Linked DNA regions of Homo sapiens. The protein of the gene in region 1 interacts with the protein of each later gene in a biochemical or structural test. Each region holds a gene or a part of one and is shown in the gene's direction. Other genes may lie near its edges. The genes, in order: RAB11A, GDI2 and EVI5.

Evidence for each region.
Region 2: the proteins of RAB11A (region 1) and GDI2 form a complex in vitro, tested with the Homo sapiens proteins (one study listed by BioGRID).
Region 3: the proteins of RAB11A (region 1) and EVI5 form a complex in vitro, tested with the Homo sapiens proteins (one study listed by IntAct).

What each region holds. Positions count from the first base shown.
Region 1 is NC_000015.10:65,875,844-65,879,497, forward strand, and holds part of RAB11A (ras-related protein Rab-11A), read left to right. Parts: intron 1-1,488; coding exon 1,489-1,684; intron 1,685-1,918; coding exon 1,919-2,112; intron 2,113-3,654. UniProt on the Homo sapiens protein: The small GTPases Rab are key regulators of intracellular membrane trafficking, from the formation of transport vesicles to their fusion with membranes.
Region 2 is NC_000010.11:5,782,387-5,786,040, reverse strand, and holds part of GDI2 (rab GDP dissociation inhibitor beta), read left to right. Parts: coding exon 1-189; intron 190-767; coding exon 768-899; intron 900-3,654. UniProt on the Homo sapiens protein: GDP-dissociation inhibitor preventing the GDP to GTP exchange of most Rab proteins. By keeping these small GTPases in their inactive GDP-bound form regulates intracellular membrane trafficking.
Region 3 is NC_000001.11:92,775,082-92,778,735, reverse strand, and holds part of EVI5 (ecotropic viral integration site 5 protein homolog), read left to right. Parts: intron 1-3,654. UniProt on the Homo sapiens protein: Functions as a regulator of cell cycle progression by stabilizing the FBXO5 protein and promoting cyclin-A accumulation during interphase. May play a role in cytokinesis.

The sequences.
Region 1 (3,654 bases):
TCTCTTTAGTAAGGAATGGTCTTACTCCTTGGCCTTATTTTTGTATGTTTGATTTTCTAGTCCTGATGTCTAAATCAATTAGCTAGTTTAGATAAGAAGAAGTCTTAGTAGTCAAAAGTAGGAACGAATGTAATGTTTCCTGAAATGCTGATACCAATTTTTACAAAGGAAAAAATATCTAGCTCAGATTCTATAAACGTGTGAACTCATTTTGAACTTTAAATTCAGATAGAAAATGTTTTAAAACAACTTAACTGCCTGTTTCTCCATTGTTTTTGAAATTCTTAAGCGTAATACCACTTTGAGTGAAAAAGAATCTCCATGTATCTAGTTAGTAAATAAACTGCTGCCTATAGAAATCACAGGAAGCAAATTCATCTAATCAAGACCTATTTTCAAAAAAATCATGGAGTCATAAGTGAAAGTATATGCCCTCCTTGCTTTGTTGTATTTTATTTTATTTATTTTTTTAAGACAGAGTCTCAGTGTGTCGCCCAGGCTGGAGTGCAGTGACACAATCTCGGCCCACTGCAACCTCTGCTTCCCGGGTTCAAGCTATTCTCATGCCTCAGGCCCACAAGTAGTTGGGATTACATGCGCCCACCACCACACCTGGCTAATTTTTGTATTTTTATAGAGATGGGGTTTTCACCATGTTGGCCAGGCTAGTCTCGAACTCTTGGCGTCAAGCAATCCGCCCACCTTGGCCTTCCAAAATGCTGGGATTACAGGTGTGAGCCACCACACCCGGCACTTGCTTTGGTTTTGACTCACAGTATGTCAGAATTATTAGTTTCCTAATACCCCCTGTTTATCTGTAGTGGCTTGGGTTTTTTTGGCAGAGGGGTCTCTAACTTTGAACCAATCTGATAAATGCAACTATTAAAGGTCATTTTAGTTTCTGTGATCTGTATGGTGATGTTTATAAACCCTATGCCTCATATGTTAAATGTTTTTCATTTTGCCTAGGTCTCAGTCCTGAGGTCACACCCAGTCTTTGATGAAACGAAGTATATTCATTTTGTCCTTCCCTACCCACTAACAGCCTTTGTTGTTTTCATTTCTGATACATTACATTTTAATATCATAAATTATTCATTTAGTTTAGGATTTATCTTTGAAGTTGTTATCTTCTAAAGTAGTAAGATTGGCATAGCATTGACGGTAATTAATGCCTGTCATCAATGCCAAGGGCATCTGTGATTAAAACTGCATGTTTAAGACAGGGTACCGTATCTGTGCTAAGCAGATGATATGTGGAAGTCATGCAGGTAGAAACAGGTTGAAAAGAATAAATCGGTTTTATTGATTGGTAACTGGTCAAGAACATGCTGTTCAACCCCCTACCCCCATTCCTTTTTAAAAGTCATATACCTTATTTTTCTTGCTTTATTTACTCTGAAGCCAAACTTCATTCTGTTGAAAGCATAGTGGTGTTCTGAATATGTTTGCCTCATTCATCTGACATTGAATTCTTTGTCTTTCCAGTTGTCCTTATTGGAGATTCTGGTGTTGGAAAGAGTAATCTCCTGTCTCGATTTACTCGAAATGAGTTTAATCTGGAAAGCAAGAGCACCATTGGAGTAGAGTTTGCAACAAGAAGCATCCAGGTTGATGGAAAAACAATAAAGGCACAGATATGGGACACAGCAGGGCAAGAGCGATATCGAGCTATAACATCAGCGTAAGTCTCATGGTTTTTAAGTTCTGTGAAATGGGTTGCCATCGAGTGAATTAGCTGACTTTTGGTATTGGAAAAAGAACTGTTGTTTTTTTCTTTTAAGAATTCTAGTATTAGGAATCCTTAGAAATTTATTTATAAGTATGTTTTTAAAACTCATGATCCATATTTTGAGTTCTTCCTGGTGTTTGCTTCCATCTTGTGGTTTTCTGATACTAAATATGTTTCTGTTTTCAGATATTATCGTGGAGCTGTAGGTGCCTTATTGGTTTATGACATTGCTAAACATCTCACATATGAAAATGTAGAGCGATGGCTGAAAGAACTGAGAGATCATGCTGATAGTAACATTGTTATCATGCTTGTGGGCAATAAGAGTGATCTACGTCATCTCAGGGCAGTTCCTACAGATGAAGCAAGAGCTTTTGCAGGTTAGTGATAGGAATTCCATGATATTTCTTACCATTGTGTCTTGTGGTTTTGATACCTTCCAATGAGAGTAATAGGTTATAATAGTTTCAGAGAGGTAAACATGAATGCTTAGCAAGAATTGTTTTGAAAGTTTGTGATGACTGTATAGCTTTTTTGCTTTGAGTCATTAAAACACTAATATTTTGCTGCCAAAAAATGAATATAAACATTGTATATTCTGTCTCTTTTTCTGTTATGTTTCTGTGTTTACAAAGGCTGCTGTACGTGAGCTCTATGTGAGTGAAAGGCAGAGGCTCAGGGAGTGTCAGGGACCAACAGGGATGCAGCTGCTTAGGAGCTGTAACTTTTTGGCTTCATAAAGAATTCACGTGTCTCTTGCCCCTGTTCTGGTAGGGACAGCATGCCAGAAGACAACATTGTGCATTGTGGCTAGTGAAAGTCTTGCGGCCGGGCGTGGTGGCTCATGCCTGTAATCCCAGCACTTTGGGAGGCTGAGGTGAGTGGATCATGAGGTCAGGAGATTGAGACCATCTTGGCTAACATGGTGAAACCCCGTCTCTACTAAAAATACAAAAAACCGGGCGCGGTGGCGGGCGCCTGTAGTCCCAGCTACTCGGGAGGCTGAGGCAGGAGAATGGCGTGAACCCGGGAGCAGAGCTTGCAGTGAGCCGAGATAGCGCCACTGCAGTCCGGCCTGGGCGAAAGAGCGAGACTCCGTCCCAAAAAAACAAAACAAAACAAACAAAAAAAGAGAGAAAGTCTTGCCTTTGCACTAATGCTTATGCTATGAATAACTTTCTGTAACAGTTTTTTAAATTTCCCATGCAAGAATAGCTTTATTGTAAATAATATGGCTACAACATACGGAATACTATAGCCAATGTAGTTGATGGAGAGGATAGCAAGAGATGGAAATAACTGGGCACTTGATACATTTTTACCACATTTTAAGTGGTGTCATTCGTCACTAGTGAGTAGTACTTAGATATAACAAGTATTTATTTTAATTAAGGAGCCAATTGACAATTTCTCACTTTTTTTTTTTTTTTTTTTGGGAGCCAGGATCTCACTCTGTGACCCATTCTGGAGTGGAGTGGCACAGTCAAGGCTCACTGCAGCCTCGACCTCCTGGGCTCTAGTGATCTTCCACCTCAGCCTCCTAAGTAGCTGAGACTGCTGGTGTGTGTCACCACGCTCAGCTAATTTTTAGTATTCTTTATATAGAGAGAGCAAAACCTCTCTCCAGTGTTTTGCCATGTTGCCCAGGCTGGTCTTGAACTCCTGGGCTCAAGCAATCCGCCTGCCTTGGCCTGCCAAAGTCCTGGGATTACAGGAGTGAGCCACCATGCCCAGCTCTCTTGCTATTATTTTTAATCTATTAAAGTGTAAATATTAAAGTGTAAGTAGGGTCGGGCATGGTGGCTCATGCCTGTAATCTCAGCATTTTGGGAGATGGAGGCAGGAGAAACTCTTGAGGCCAGGAGTTCAAGACCAGGCTGGGCAACCTAGTGAGACCTGCATCTCTACTTATATAAAGAAGT
Region 2 (3,654 bases), on another chromosome or scaffold:
ATTGTTTGAAAAACGTCGCTTCAGGAAATTCCTAGTGTATGTTGCCAACTTCGATGAAAAAGATCCAAGAACTTTTGAAGGCATTGATCCTAAGAAGACCACAATGCGAGATGTGTATAAGAAATTTGATTTGGGTCAAGACGTTATAGATTTTACTGGTCATGCTCTTGCACTTTACAGAACTGATGAGTAAGTATTTTGGTTTTTAGATTTGTATTTTTCTTGAAATTCTCACTAAATTTCCCAAGTCTTCCAAGTGGAAATTCTAACAAAACAAATACTTAGCCATATTGCACTATGAATGAAGAGGTTCTAGTTGAAATTAGTGTTGGGACCTTTTAAGTGATTTAAATATAAAGGTAGTGGGCCAGGTGTGGTGGCTCACGCCTGTGATCCCAGCACTTTGGGAGGCCAAGTTGGGTGGATCATTTGAGGTCAGGAGTTCAAGACCAGCCTGGCCAACATGGTGAAACCCCCTCTCTACTAAAAATGCAAAAATTAGTTGGGCGGTAGTGGTGCGTCCCTGTAATTCCAGCCACTTGGGAGGCTGAGGCAGAAGAATCACTTGAGCCTGGGAGGTGGAAGTTGTGGGGAGCCGAGATTGCACCACTGCACTCCAGTCTGGGCGACAGAGTGAGACCCTGTCTCAAAAAACAAAAAAACAAAAAAGAAGATAGCGGATTGAAATCGCTTCAAAAAAAATTATAAATTGAACACCATGAATGAAAACTAAAGCCCTTTCCTAATACTCATTTCCTTTCTTCCAGTTACTTAGATCAACCGTGTTATGAAACCATTAATAGAATTAAACTTTACAGTGAATCTTTGGCAAGATATGGCAAAAGCCCATACCTTTATCCACTCTATGGCCTTGGAGAACTGCCCCAAGGATTTGCAAGGTAAGAGCCTGTGTTTAAAACCTCAGTGATCCAAAACCTCATCTTCAACATAATGTGTATATGAGATATAGTTTAAATAATGAGATGAGATCAGTCTATGAGTAATAAGATGCTTTTTATTTTTATTGAAATAAAATTAACATATAATGATATGCATGGATCTTCAGTTAAAAAAAATCCAGTTTTATACAACTGTAGCTGATGTGCTCTTGTAAGTGCCAACTCCTGGCTGGAGGCCAGCCAATACAAAACCAGCGCACTTAACAAAAATACAACCAAGGACCTTCACAGAATCTACTTCACACCCCTGTTACCTCCACCAGAGTAAGTGCTGGTATCCACGCCTGAGAGACCTGGAGACAGATCACATCACAGGACTCTTTGCAGACACTCTCCAGTACCAGCTTAGAGCCTGATTATCTCCACTGGGCGGCTAGATCAAGAAGAGAAATAACAATCACTGCAGTTTGGCTCTCAGGAAGCCCCATCCCTAGGGGAAAGGGGAGAGCACCACATCAAGGGAGCATCCCTGTGGGACAAAAGAATCTGAACAGCAGCCCTTGAGTTCCAGATCTTCCCTCTGACATAGTCTATCCAGATGAGAAGGAACTGGAAAAACAACTGGGGTAATATGACAAAACAGGGTTCTTTGACACTCTGAAAAGGTCACACTAGCTTACCAGCAATGGATCTAAACCAAGACAAAAATCTCTGAATTGCCAGAAAAAGAATTCACAAGGTCATTATTACGCCAATCAAGGAGGCACGAGAGAAAGGTGAAGTCCAACTTAGCAAAACAAAAAAAGTGATACAGGATATGAATGGAAAAATTTCCAGGAAAATAGCATAAATAAATAATCACAACTTCTGAAAATCAAGGGACACACTTAGAGACATGCAAAATGCACTGGAAAGTCTCAGCAATAGAATTGAATAAGTAGAAGAAAGAAATTTCAGAGTTCGAAGACAAGGCTTTTGAATTAGCCCAATCTGACAAAGACAAAAAAGAATTTAAAAAAATGAACGCAGCCTCCAATAAGTTTGTTAAACAACCAAGCCTAAGAATAATTGGTGTTCCCAAGGAAGAAGAAGAATCTAAAAGTTTGGAAAACAAATTTGAGGGATTAATTGAGGAAAACTTCCCCGGCCTTGCTAGAGATCTAGACATCCAAATACAAGAAGCTTAAAGAACACCTGGGAAATTCATCACAAAAAGATCATCACCTAGGCACATAGTCATCAGGTTAACTAAAGTCAAGATGAAGGAAAGAATCTTAAGAGCTGTGAGTCAAAAGCCTCAGGTAACCTATAAAGGAAAACCTATCAGATTAACAGATTTCTCAGCAGAAACTCTAAAAGCTAGAAGGGATTGGGATCCTATCTTGAGCCTCCTTAAGTTATCAGCCAGTAATTTTGTATCCAGTGAAACAGAGCTTCATAAATGAAGGAAAGTAGTCTTTTTCACACAAACAAGTGCTGAGAGAATTTGCCACTACCAAGCCAGCACTACAAGAACTGCTAAAAGGAGCTCCAAATCTTGAAACAAATTCTCAAAATACCAAAATTGTATCTCCTTAAAGCATAAATCACACAGGACCTATAAAACAATAACACAATGAAGAAAAAAAACAAGGTGTTCAGGCAAACAAATAGCACGATGAATAGAATAGTACCTCAAATCTCAATACTAATGTTGAATGTAAATGGCCTACATGCTCCACTTTAAAGATACAGAATAGCAGAATGGATAAGAACTCATCAACCAAGTATCTGCTGTCTTCAAGAGATTCACCAGACACAAAAGGACTCAAATTTAAGGTAAAGGGGTGGAAAAATATATTTCATGTAAATGGACACCAGAAGCGAGCAGAAGTAGCTATTCTTATATTTTTTATTTTATAACTATATATATTTTAAAAAAAATCAGTTTGATAAATTTATAGACCTATCCCTGTCCTGGGTTTAACTAAAACCTGAGTGAAGGTATAGAACATTTTCCTCACCCCATAAAGTTCCCTTGTGTCACCTCATAATGAATACTGCCCCCCATCCCCAGCAACCACCTCTGTGATTTCTGTCACTATAGATTACTTTTGCTTGTTTTCAAAGTTCATGTAAAAGGAATAATACAATATGTTCTCATTTGTGTCTTTTTCATTTTTTGAGATTCATCCATATTGATGCATGTGTCAGTAATTCTTTTTTTTGGAGATGGAGTTCCACTCTTGTTGCCCAGGCTGGAGTGCTGTGGTGCAGTCTCAGCTCACTGCAACCTCCACCCCCTGGGTTCCAGTGATTCTCCTGCCTCAGCCTCCCAAGGAGCTGGGATTACAGGCATGCACCACCACATCCGGCTAATTTTTTATATTTAGTAGTGATGGGGTTTCACCATGTTGGTCAGTCTGGTCTTGAACTCCTGACCTCAAGTGATCCACCCACCTTGGCCTCCCAATGTGCTGGGATTACAGGTGTGAGCCATTGTGCCTGGCCAATTCTTTTTTTTTAATTGTTGAGTAGAATTCCTTTGTATGAATTATATGAGCATATAATTCTCCTTTTGGTGGACATCTAGTTAGTTTTCAGTTTTTGGCTATTATGAATGAAGGCACTGTGAAATTTTTATGTAAAACACTTTCTGTGGGGATATAGGTTTTCATTTCCTTTTGGGTAAATACTGGGAGTGAAATTGCTGACTAATGTGGCAGATAGAAGTCTGAATTCATAAGAAACTGTAAAACAGTGTTCTGGAGTGGTT
Region 3 (3,654 bases), on another chromosome or scaffold:
CCGAAGATTAGCACCAGTATTTTTTAAAGCTGCCAAGATAATTCCAGTGTGTAGCCAAGATTGAAATAATTGATCTGGGTGGATTGTTTGAGGCTGTCTCCACTGTATTTATCTTTCCTTTTGTCCCAGTCATATTTTCCAGAGAGTATCTTCCAGTTTTCTGCTTGGAGAGTTGAGGTCTGGTTGTCAGTATCTGGGAACTCAGGAAAAGAGGGTTGGGTAAGGAGCCAAAGAACATTTAGTATATTGGGCTCACACAATCTGTCTCTGTTAGGATGCCTATGTCTTCCACCTTGTATGGTTTACCCTCTTGAGAAGAGAAATCTGTCACCTGCCACATTGAGGGTGGGGCCACTCAGCAGCTTGGAAGAAATCTGGGATTCTAACTGTTCAGCATTCACTTGCTCCTTTCTTTTAGTCCCCCTTCCACTCTTTGTTCTGGCAGTTCCTGAGCCTTTTGAGGAATCTATGGCATAAACCGGTTTGTTCTTAGTTGTCAGCATTGCTGGCTTAGAATTTGGCCATCTTTGGCGGGGTGCAGTGGCTCACCCCTGTAATCCCAGCCCTTTGGGAGGCTGAGGCAGGCAGATCATGAGGTCAAGAGATCGAGACCATCCTGGCCAACATGGTGAAACCCCGTCTCTACTAAAAATACAAAAATTAGCTGTGCGTGGTGGCGTGCGCCTGTAGTCCCAGCTACTCAGGAGGCTGAGGCAGGAGGATTGCTTGAACCCAGGAGGTGGAGGTAGCAGTGAGCTGAGATTGCGCCACTGCACCTCCAGCCTGGCGACAGAGTGACACTCCGTCACAAAAAAAAAAAAAAAAAGATTTTGGCATCTTTGACTAGGTCAGTTATCCAGCTGCTTTCCAGCTTCCAAAATTTTGTTGCTATTGTCTCATTCTCCCTGTCATAATGGCTTGTGTCCTAAAAACAGAACAAACAACAATAACACAACTTTCTTTATCCTTGTTTTAGTAACGTTTTGGGAGGAAGCAAAATTAGATGTGTGTGTGTTCAATCTGCCATCTCACCTTGGAAGTCCACTGTCTGCTTTCCATTATACAGAAACTTGTTGCCACCTGTCCTCCATTGTTGTCTCCTCCTTATGGGGTTATACCTTTTAAATTTCTTCATAGTTGTCTGAAAAGAGTGTCAGGAGGTAGAGGACCTAAATATTGGTCAAGATATCATTTCTTTAGGAGTCTCAAAATTCTTTTTAGAAGTACTCGTTGTCCCAGGATCTTATAATCTCAAGATTGGAAGTGATTTTGAAGATAATCCGGTTTAACGAGCTATTTGATACCTTCTCTAAAGGAATTGTCCAGCCTAAAATGTGAGAAACTTGTGGTAGGAGGAGATGAGTGCCTGGAGAAATGGATTGGGCTGTAGATCTCTGCAAGGGGTCTGGAAATCCATGTGTACATTAAATGTTGCATGAATAATAGTTCTTGCATATTTGTAATATATAATAAAATTTATTAAAAAGTCATAATGGGCCGGGCGTGGTGGTGGCTCACGCCTGTAATCCCAGCACTTTGGGAGTCTGAGGCAGCTGGATCACCTGAGGTCAGGAGTTTAAGACCAGCCTGGCCAACATAGTGAAACCCCATCTCTACTAAAAATACAAAAAATTGGCTGGGTGCAGTGGTTCACACCTGTAATCCCAGCACTTTGGGAGGCCAAGGCGGGTGGATCACGAGGTCAGGAGATTGAGACCATCTTGGCTAACATGGTGAAACCCCGTCTCTACTAAAAATACAAAAAATTAGCCAGGCGTGGTGGCGGGCGTCTGTAGTCCCAGCTACTCGGGAGGCTGAGGCAGGAGAATGGCGTGAACCCGGGAGGCGGAGCTTGCAGTGAGCTGAGATCTTGCCACTGCACTCCAGCCTGGGCGACGAGCGAGACTCTGTCTCAAAAAAAAAAAAAAAAAAGTTAGCTGGCTATGGTGGTGTGCACCTGTAGTCCCAGCTACTTGGTAGGCTGAGGCAGGAGAATCACTTGAACATGAGAGGCAGAGGCTGCAGTGAGTCGAGATCATACCACTGCACTCCAGCTTGGGTGACAGTGAGTGAAACTCCATCTCAAAAAAAAAAAAAAAAGTCATGATGGTGTTATCATTTCATTTAGTAATGCTTAAATCCAATCATGGGGAGAGGTAGTACTCAGAATTTTTTATTTTGAAAAAAGCTTCTAGACTAGAAAAAGTTATGAGCTATTACTAAAGATTAATAAAGTTGTGGAGATTTTAGTGTATAGTTAACATAAAGTGAATGATAAAACCACCCATTAAAGTCTCTATTTTAAATATCTCTAATAGCTTTGTTATTCTTTGACATTCTATATTTTTATTTTCTTTAAAACACTAAGTCAGTAGCTTCCCAAATGTTGCTCTTTGAGTTAGAATTTTTACCATGAAGTTCATGATGAAATAGAAATGTTATCAATGTTTATACAATTTATTCACCTTTAAATTATATCCATCCTTTTTCTGTGTTAAAATGCCCTTTTTCTTATGAAGTTGTGATTCTAGATAGTAGATAGATTTTTTCCTTCTAATATTTGGCAAAAAATAAAAACCTGCGAGCTCTACATATTGCTCTTCAAATTAATTTTTTTTTTTTTTTTTTGAGATGGAGTCTTGCTCTGTCGCCCAGGCTGGAGTGCAGTGGCGCAATTTTGGCTCACTGCAACCTCCGCCTCCCGGGTTCACGCCATTCTCCTGCCTCAGCCTCCCAAGTAGCTGGGACTACAGGCGCCCACCACCACGCCTGGCTAATTTTTGATATTTTTAGTAGAATCAGGGTTTCACCGTGTTAGCCAGGATGGTCTTGATCTCCTGACCTCGTGATCCACCTGCCTCGGCCTCCCAAAGTGCTGGGATTACAGGCGTGAGCCACCGTGCCCGGCCTCAAATTAATTTTTAACAAGTTTTATAAAATACAGAAGCCTGCTTCTCAACTGCACAAAATCCCCATTGGCCTTTTCTTTCTACCACAAGTTAGTAACAGTCAGTCATGTGTTGCTTAACAATGGGGATATGTTCTGAGAAATGAGTTGTTAGACAATTTCACTGTTGCATGAACATCGTAGAATACACTTAGACAAAGCTAGATAATAGAGCCTACTATACACACCTAGGCTATATGGTATAGCCTTTTGCTCCTAGGCTACAAACCTGTACAGTATGTTATTGTATGGAATACTGTAGGCAGTTGTAACACAGTGGTACTTGTGTATCTAAACAGCAAAGATACACCAAAAGTACTATATTATAATCTCATGAGACCACCCTCTTTTTTTTTTTTTTTGAAATGCAGTCTCGCTGTGTCTCGCAGGCTGGAGTGCAGTGGCGCTATCTCAGCTCACTGCAACTTCTGCCTCCTGGGTTCAAACTATTCTCCTGCCTGAGCCTCCCAGTAGCTGGGATTATAGGCACACACCACTACACATGGCTAATTTCTACATTTTTATTAGAGATGGAGTTTCACCACGTTGGCCAGGTTGGTCTTGAACTCCTGACCTCAAATGATCCACCTGCCTCAGTCTCCCAAAGTGCTGGGATTACAGGCGTGAGCCACTATGCTCAGGCAGGGACTACCCTCTTATATGTGGTATCCATTGACTGAAATGTTCTTATGCGGTGCATGACTGTA